Linked DNA regions of Homo sapiens. The protein of the gene in region 2 interacts with the protein of the main gene of each other region in a biochemical or structural test. Each region holds a gene or a part of one and is shown on either strand. Other genes may lie near its edges.

Region 1 (4,352 bases), on a different chromosome or scaffold from region 2:
ACAGCTCAAATAAATCACACAAAGCCAATGAGAGCATGCCAGGGCAGATGCAAACCTAAGCCAGTCTCAGTAGAATCGTACCCACCCCTGATGAGACTGTGGATTCATCCTAGGGCAGGAGAGCGACCCAGCTGAGATATGACATACTCTCTGTCTCCAAGGCTGACACGAACTCATCCACAACTGCCCAAAACTTCAAAGAGCGTGAGTATCTCTGCTATTATAAGAATTATCACAGCGACACTAAAATTCCTCTCCATAATCACTATGGATGAAGTACTTAAAAAGGTAAAATCACCTAGCCTTCACCCCAGCTTCTAAAGAGGTCAGCATGGCTGTCAGCCCTCAAAAAGATAAAACTAAACCTGAAGCATAGCTGCCAAGACCCTTAAGAAGACAGATGACCCAAACAGATGCAAAGAAATGCAGTGAGATTTTAAAACACACCACACAATACAATCTTAAGAAAAGTGAGAAGGCAGATTATACTCGTTACCATAGCATAGCTCCCTTCCCTATTGTAGGGAGGTCCTGGTCTGATCCTTCTGTGTCCACCATTAAACAGCACTGTCCACTGTCCTCTTCAAGAGTCAGGGAATGAGCCTCAGGCAAAGCAGCTTTCAGGGGCCATCTGAAGCACACATCACTCCTCCCCTTCAAAGAATATAGTCCGCCAGGCACAGTGTCTCACGTCTGAATCCCAGCACTTTTGGAAGTTGAAGTGGGCAGACTGCATGAGTCCAGGAGTCCACGATTAGTAAGATGGTGAGACCCTGTCTCTACAAAGAATTCTTTAAAAAATTAGCCAGGCTTGGGGATGCATGCCTGTAGTCCTAGCTATTTGGAAGGCTGAGGCAGGAGGATCACTGGAGCCCAGGAGTTCAAGCTTGCAGTGAGCTATGATTGTGCCACTGTACTCTAGCCTGGGTAAAAGAGCGAGACCCTGACACTACCAAAATAAATAAATAAATAAATAAATAAATAATAATAATAAAGCAACTCCTTTTTTAGCCAAGGCAACACATATCTTCAGCTGCCACCATCACTTCCCTCTGCCAAGGATCTTGAAGGCATAGGAAGCCATTCCTTTAAGTTTAGGTAGCAAATAAGCTCCACAAACAGGAGAGGACGGTTATGCCTCTGAGGGCAGAGAAAGAAGAGGAGAGGGGAAAAGTTCATGAGTGTGGAAGACGACAGGATCTGTAGCAACGGCAGCTACCGTTAGAGCAGAGCACCCTGCAGGGAGCTCCTGGGTGGCTCCTCTAAACACCCACCTGCACTTCAGTGGTTTCTGTCCTCCACTCAGAGACACCATAAATCCACAGCAGTTGTGAGCAAGTTACAGCTTTCTTCTGTATCTGCTTCTTCCTGCCTCACCAATCTTTTCTCTCAACATTCCCATTACTTTCTCTCCTTTCTCCACTGTACCTGCCCATTCCCCCAATCCCAAGTTCTGTGATCATTTAAACATACAATCATCTCATGTGATTAAAAAAAAATCTGACAACACAAATAGATAATAAAAGCCGTATTTATCACCTTCCAAGATTCAACTAATGGTACTTTATTTGGTCAAAAGGAGAAACTCTTCTTCAAATCCCCAATTTATATCATAACCAATTCAATATCCATGAGGTGAGGATATATGGTCAACTTACCCAGGGGATTGGCACCAATAAATACATTCGCAAAGTTCATCTTCGGCATCTGAGTCAAAGACTGAATATAGTTTCTTGCCTGAAAAAACAAGGGTTTTCAGAATGACTTTGTTCAATAATGTTACTGCTCTCAAAGAAAGAATCTTGGTCCTGCTAAGGAACGAGTGTTAACTGACAAAGTCCACTAACTTCAGTGTTTCTAACTGTCTTTGATAGAACTTCTCCCTTACTGCCATCCTAACTTCCCTAGTTATGATCATCACCTTCTTTATTCCTGCTATCTCTCACAGTTGCATTTCAAGTGAACGAGAATGCTCATCAATCAAATTCTCTTTCATTAGCTTTCTGATCACAGGATGAGAAGTTTAAAAACTGAGGCCAAGATATGTAAGAAGTAGCCCTGAGACAGCCTTCTCAAACAGCTAAATTGGTAGAGGGGTTGGTATTCCCAAAGCAAGTCTTGGACCAGCAGTCTTTTGACAGTGCTGACTTCAGTAGGTGCTCTTAGTACATCAAAGGATATCAATATTAAACCTTGCTAACAAAGTAACGGTGGTAACAAAAAAGTTAATATAAACTTAATATAACAGTCCTACCTCACAGGGTTGGAGTGAAGATTAGAGATAACAAACCTAGTACTTTCTTAACACAGTACTTGGTTCCAAGTGACAGTTCAAGAAACATTATCTGCTATCCCACTATCACCTTCAGAAGCAAAGTCTGCTGTCTATCTTAACCACCTCTTTAAAACTCCTGTTTTAATACAGTCCAACAGTAAAAGTATGTATGTATATTTATGTTTACACATACACACACAAGTTTATAAAAAGTTCTGGTTGCCCAGGCACGGTGACTCACGCCTGTAATCCCAGCACTTTGGGAGGCCAAGGTGGGCAGATCGCTTGAGCCCAGGACTTTGAGACCAGCCTGGGTAACATGGTGAAAACTTGTCTCCAAAAATACAAAAAATTAGCCAGGTGTGGTGACGCATGCCTGTGGTCCCAGCTACTTGGGAGACTGAGGTAACAGGATCGCTTGAGCAGGGAGATGGAGCCCAGGAAGCTTGAGCCCAGGAGGTGGAGGTTCCAGTGAGCTAAGATCGTGCCACTGCACTCCAGCTGGGGTGACAGAGTTAAGATCCTGTCTTAAAAAAAAAAAAATCTGGTTGCTTGGGCAAGTTCACCTTCTTTATTTATTAAAAAAATTTTTTTAGAGACACAGTCTCTGCTCTGTTGCCTAGGCTGGAGGTCACTGGCACAATCACAGCTCACTATGGCCTCTAACTCCTGACTCAAGCAACCCTCCTGCCTCAGCTTCCCAAGTAGCTGGGACTACAGGCATGTGCTATCATGCCCTAATTTTTAAATTTTTTTGTAGAGCTGCAGTATTGCTGTGTTGCCCAGGATGGTCTCAAACTCCTGGGCTCAACTGATCCTCCCATCTCAGCCTTCCAAAGTGCTGAGGTTGCAGGTGCACGCCACCACACCCAGCCTTCCGCTTCTTAATTATTGCATGTGGAGTCAGGAGGAAAGGTCTGCTTTGAAAAGCAATTGAGAATCTTTCTGATTTGAAAAGAAAGTTTTAGGAATTGAATACATAAATGGCTGTAATCCCTTTCTACTTGAACATGTAAATAAAAAGAGGAAGGGAAAACAGGTAAGAGAGAACTATCTCATTCAGAGAACAGTCATCCCTTTAATAAAGATAAATCAAAAGACGACCTGAATATAGCTGAAGTAGAAACAAAGCTGCTGGGAAGGGCCCTCTGTGATGCCAACCTGGTTCCCCAAAATATTAAGGGTATCTTACAAAGAAAGAAGTGCCCCAATCATCTCTGATAATAAAACAAGAGTTAGACTAAGTAGTTAATAATTAATAAAGAAGGTACCTAACTGTACCAAAGTGTTTGTATTTATTCTATATTATTTGTGTATTTTCTTTTAAATATAGTACATATTAGTATTGGATATTTCAGTTTTGTTTTTAAATAAAGAATCCTCTTTTGGTCATTAAAAAAATGGATGAATTGGAAAGCATGCTAATGGACTTCAGTTAACTACCCTTCTGATAAAGGTCACGATAGTAGCACACCCTAGCTACAGGCAGAGCACCTAGAAAGAAACCGCCTCACAAGCACTAAATTCACACAACCAAATATAAAAATAACAATTTTCCATTTACAAGCTTACTAATTATATTCCCAATCTCACAGGACTGGATGACATTTTATCCCAAAAGTCAACATCTTGCAATAGCACATAGGCAGGCCTCAAGGCACATGCAAGCATCCAGTGATGTTAAGAACTGTTGGTTATACGGTGGCAATAAAATGAGAATGTGGCTTCTCAGTGCGACATCCCTGTACAGTCTCTTTGTTCTCACCTCATGGCTTGGCATCCTGTTAATGAGATAAGCGGGGGGTGTTCCTGTCAGACGCATAATCTGCTGAAGCTGGTTAATATCTTAGATGCCTAGTCAAGGGCATTGTTAAACATACAGTGCAAAAAATAATTTTCAACTCAAGTTTTTAAAAAGGTCAAAAAGCCACCCCCAAACAGACAAAAAAACCTACCCTCCATTCCCCCTACCCGAGAGCCCACAGCTGCATGCTACAGTACACTTCTGTGAATGACATGAGTAACTAGGCACGTAGCCAGTGACTGGCCATGCAGATAAGAAAAATTACTTTTCTTT
Region 2 (5,205 bases):
GAGGCCGAGGCGGGCGGATCACAAGGTCAGGAGATTGAGACCATCCTGGCTAGCACGGTGAAACCCCGTCTCTACTAAAAATACAAAAAATTAGTCAGGCGTGGTGGCGGGCGCCTGTAGTCCCAGCTACTCGGGAGGCTGAGGCAGGAGAATGGCGTGAACCCAGGAGGCGGAGCTTGCAGTGAGCTGAGATCGTGCCACTGAACTCCAGCCTGGAAGACAGAGTGAGACTACGTCTCAAAAAATAAAAAGAAGGGGTGCCATTTTCCTTTTTTCCCCTTCTTGTGGTTGGAATGTAGACATAAAACCTGGAGCCTGGGGGGTGGGGGACAAGGGGAGGGAGAGCATTAGGCAAATACCTGACACACGCGGGGCTTCAAACCTAGATGATGGGTTGATGGGTGCAGCAAACTACCATGGCACATGTATACCTATGTAACAAACCCTGCACGTTCTGCACATGTATCCCAGAACTTAAAATTAAAAAAAAAAAAAAAAAAAAAGCTGGCGTGTGGAGCTAGGCACAGTGGCTCACGCCTGTAATGTCAGCACTTTGGGAGGCCAAGACAAGAGGACCTCTTGAGCCCAAGAGATCGAGACCAGCGTAGGAAACAAAGTGAGACCTCGTCTCTACAAAAAATTAGCCTGGTGTGGTGGCATGCCTGTAGTCCCAGCTACTAGAGAGGCTGAGGTGGGAGGATCACTTGAGCCCAGGAGGTTGAGGCTGCAATGATTTGTGACGGCATCACTGCACTCCAGCCTGGGTGACAGAGCAAGACCCTGTTAAAAAAAAAAAAAAAAAAAAGGCTGGGTGCGGTGGCTGACGCCTGTAATCCCAGCACTTTAGGAGGCCCAGGTGGGCAGATCATGAGGTCAAGAGATCAAGGCTGTCCTGGCCAATATGGTGAAACCCCGTCTCTACTGAAAAATTAAAAAAAATAAATAAATAATACAAAAATTAGCTGGGCCTGGTGGCATGTGCCTGTAGTCCCAGCTACTTGGGAGGCTGAGGCAGGATAATTGCTTGAACCCAGGAGGCAGAGGTTTCAGTGAGCCAAGATCGCGCCGCTGTACTCCGGCCTGGGCGACAGAGCAAGACTCCAGCTCAAAAAAAAAAAAAAAACAAAAAACGCTGGAGCTCAAGCAGTCATTTTGGATCATGAAGTAAACTTCAGAATGGAGACCATACAAGGTGGGGGAGAAACAGTGGTTTATAACTGGAGGGTAGCATGATCCACCCCTCTCTCCCATGTCCTTGGAAACCTATGGGGTTACTGTGATTGTAATAATGACTGAGAATGTTACTGAAGTTTATGGCGGGGAGGTGTGGATATCCTGCATCCTGCTAAGTACAGGACAGGACCACATCAGAAAGAATTAGCCTGCCCGGCCGGGTGCAGTGACTCATGCCTGTAATCCCAGCACTCTAGGAGGCTGAGGCGGGCGGATCACCTGAGGTCAGGACTTCAAGACCAGCCTAGCCAACATGGTGAAACCCTGTCTCCACTAAAAATATAAAAATTAGCCAGTGCATGCCTATAATCTCAGCTACTCGGGAGGCTGAGGCACAAGAATCACTTGAATCTGGGAGGAGGAGGGTGCAGTGAGCTGAGATTGTGCCATTGCACTCCAGCCTGGGCGGCAGAGTGAGACTCTGTCCCAAAAAAAAAAAAAAAAAAAAAAAAGGTAGCACAAATGAACGCCTGATGTACAGCCAGTTGGAAATTCTCCCAAAGGGCTGCTCTGCTCTAGGCTGAGCTGGAGACTTCCTGTCTGATCTGTCTCAGTCCCATACCCATTAATTTGCTGCTTGGACAATCTGGAGCCTCAGCTGGGAATTGACGGGAACAGTAAATGGGGAGACCCAGGTTTGGCTCCAACCAAGCAGAAGGTCCTGGGTTGAAAGTCTCCATGGCCACCATCAACTCTCACTGGTGACAGCAACAGACCCATCATTGGCTGTCTCTACCTAACAGTCAAAGGAGCTTTTATTTTTAAGTATTTTTTTTCAGATGGAGTCTTGCTCTGTCACCCAGGCTGGAGTGCAACGGCGCCATCTCAACCTCTGCCTCCTGCAGTCAAGCAATTCCCCTGCCTCAGCCTCCTGAGTAGCTAGGACTACAGGCACCCACCACCATGCCTGGCTAATTTTTGTATTTTTAGTAGAGATGGGGTTTCACCATGTTGGCCAGGCTAGTCCTGAATGAACTCCTGGCCTCAAGTGAACCACCCACCTCGGCCTCCCAAAGTGCCAGGATTACAGGCGTGAGCCACCGCGCCTGGCCGAATTTTTGTATTTTTAGTAGAGGTGGGATTTCACCATGTTGGCCAGGCTGGTCTCAAACTCCTGGTGTCAAGGGATTCACCCACCTGGGCCTCCCAAAGTGCTGGGATTACAGGCGTGAGCCACCGCACCCGGCCTCCAAAGGAGTTTTTATTTACTTCCTTTTATAAAAATTAATTTAAAAATTTCTTTTTCATATACATGGGGTCTCACTACATTGACCAGGCTGGTCTCAAATTCCTGGCCTCAAGTGATCCTCCCACCTTGGCCTCCCAAAGTACTGGGATTATAGGTGTGAGCTACCACTCTATTCAGACATGGCTCCTCATGGCTTCCTACTTCATTAGAATAAAACCTGAAGGCCACTCCCTCACCCACAGGGCCTTCCAGCTCCCTCTCCTACATAATTTCCTACCTCTCTCTTCCTTGCCTGCACAGTGGCAGCCACATGGGCCTCTTTGCTGTTTCTGGGACACACCATGCTCACCTCAGCACCTCCTTCTTCCTCCAAACTTTTCGTGACTGGTTCCTTTTTGCCACTTGGAACTCAGATGAAGTATCATTTCTCAGATTGCTCAGAGAAGCGTTCCCAAAAGTAGTCTTCCAGCCCTTAAAGTGCCTTCCTCTCAGCCTCCTCGCACTTTGTACTAACACTTTTTTCTGGTGTACTTGTCTTTAAAAATTATAATTTTCTTAAAAAACAGCTTTATAAAAAAGAGCTTCTTGTATGTTGACTGACTTACTATTCCTGAGGGCAGGGATTGCATGTATTTTTCTTCTCTGCTATATCCCTAGAACCCGGTGCAGTTAGATGAAGGAATGAATGAGTGAATTAATCATTTTCCTGTCTGACAGATGGGACAGTGCATGGGCTAGTGTCTGAGGGGGCTTTCAGTGCTAGCATCCATGTGCTGTCTCTATGCTTTTTTAAATTTTTTCTTTTTTTGGAGACAGAGTCTCGCTCTGTCACCCAGGCTGGAGTGCAGTGGCCAATCCCAGCCCACTGCAATCTCTGCCTCCCGGCCTCAAGTGATTCTCCTGCCTCAGTCTCCCGAGTAGCTGGGACAACAGGCATCTGCCACCACGCCCAGGTAATTTTAGTATTTTTAGTAGAGATGGGGTTTCACCATGTTGGTCAGGCTGGTCTCAAACTCCTGACCTCAAGTGATCCGCCCACCTCGGCCTCCCAAAGTGCTGGGATTACAGGTGTGCGCCCCCGCGCCCGGCCTTGTCTCTAGATCCTATGAGCTTTTTATTCTAATCCAGTGTGCCCCCTAGTTGCCATTTGTGCTAGCTGAACAGGTAACTGGCACTTGTCTGGTGGCCTGACCTTGCCAGCAGGTCCCTTTGTCAGACTGAGATCCTGGCTTCAGCAGGAGACCCTCCCTCCCACTCTGCCCTCACCCCTTCCTCCCTCCCTTACTCCCCAGAGGCCATCCCGGCCGCGCCTTTCAGCACCTCCAGACATCACTGCTTTTGGAGAAGAGGGAGAGACGGATAACCTCCGGCGCCATCCAGGCGTAGGTCCCCGCAGCGCTCATCTTGGTGGTCTTGTGCCACTCGCGGGCGAGGCCGAAGTCCGTGATCTTGAGCACCGTGTCTGCGAGGTTGTGGTTCTCGATGGCCTCCAGGATCAGGACTGTGGGGTGGGAAGAAAGGTGGGTCACCCCAGACCTGCCACGCCGCAGACCCAAGTGTTCTGGCCCGCTGCCTCAGCTAGAAACACGTCTTTCCTCTCACTGCCTCAGGCTGCCCCGCTCTGTGGCAGGTCCTTTCCTGGCCTGGAACATCCATGAGCCCCTCCGCCCAGGTCTAATCCCTGTCCCAGGCTCCCATGAGGGAGTAGGGAGCTCCTCCTGTGTCCTCTGCCCTCCTGATTCTGTCCTGGGCTTTGGGGAGCTCCATGAATGGTCAAGAACCAACAGCCAAGGCTGAAGCGGGTCACTTGAGCCCAGGAGTTCGAGACCAGCCTGTGCAACATGGCAAGACCTCATCTCTACAAAAACTTTTTAAAAATACCTGGGTGTGGTGGTGCATGCCTACAGTCCCAGCCACTTGGGAGGCTAAGTTGGGAGGATCACTTGAGGCTGGGAGGTTGAGGCTGCAGTGAGCCATGGTCTTGCCATTGCACTCCAGCCTGGGCAATAGAGTGAGACCTCGTCTCAAAAAAAAGAAACAACAGCCAAGGCCTTAGTCCTCCAGGCCTTGAGTTCCCAGCTACCCTGGAAGCAGGAAGTGCAAACCTGGGGCAGAAGGGAGGAACGTGGCTTCCCCCTCGTGTCTATCACCCCCGTGGCACACTGCAGTCAGGGTCCCAATTCTACCCCTTCCTGTGTCCACACTCTGCCATGAGACTTTGCCATTCTTTCTGCTAAAGAGGCAGAGTATGGCCAGGCACGGTGGCTCACACCTGTAATCCCAGCACTTTGGGAGGCTAAGGCAGGCGGATCACTTGAGGTCAGGAGTTCGAGACCAGCCTGGCCAACATGGTGAAACCTCATCTCTACTAAAAATACAAAAATTAGCCGAGCATCATGGTGCTCACCTGTAATCCCAGCTACTTGGAAGGCTGAGGCATGAGAATCACTTGAACCTGGGAGGTGGAGGTGGCAGTGAGCTGAGATTGCGCCATTGAACTCCAGCCTGGGTGACAGAGCGAGACTCTGTCTCCGAGAAAACAAAAACAAAAACAAAAACAAAGGCAGAGTGCACCCTGACTCTGGCTCAGCCGTATGACTTGCTTTGGCTAAGAATGACAGGGTGCCAATTCCAAGCCCAGGCCTTGCATGTCTGCTGGCCCTCTTGCACTTGTGTCATCACCATGACAACATGCCTCAGCTAGCCTGCTTGTCCAAGAAGATGAGAGCTACTTGGAGCAAAGCCTCTCCAGCTGAGCCCAGCCTCCATCAGTTTACCCTCCA

What was found. Proteins that work in one complex are often made in the same cells at the same time.
Region 1: of the proteins of MAP3K10 (region 2) and MAPK14, one has a biochemical effect on the other in vitro, tested with the Homo sapiens proteins (one study listed by BioGRID).

Annotation. Positions count from the first base shown.
Region 1 is NC_000006.12:36,099,956-36,104,307, reverse strand, and holds part of MAPK14 (mitogen-activated protein kinase 14), read right to left. Parts: intron 4,121-4,352; coding exon of another isoform or gene 4,041-4,120; exon of another isoform or gene 4,035-4,040; intron 1,738-4,034; coding exon 1,659-1,737; coding exon of another isoform or gene 1,606-1,658; exon of another isoform or gene 1,544-1,605; intron 1-1,543. UniProt on the Homo sapiens protein: Serine/threonine kinase which acts as an essential component of the MAP kinase signal transduction pathway.
Region 2 is NC_000019.10:40,197,093-40,202,297, reverse strand, and holds part of MAP3K10 (mitogen-activated protein kinase kinase kinase 10), read right to left. Parts: intron 3,924-5,205; coding exon 3,743-3,923; intron 1-3,742. UniProt on the Homo sapiens protein: Activates the JUN N-terminal pathway.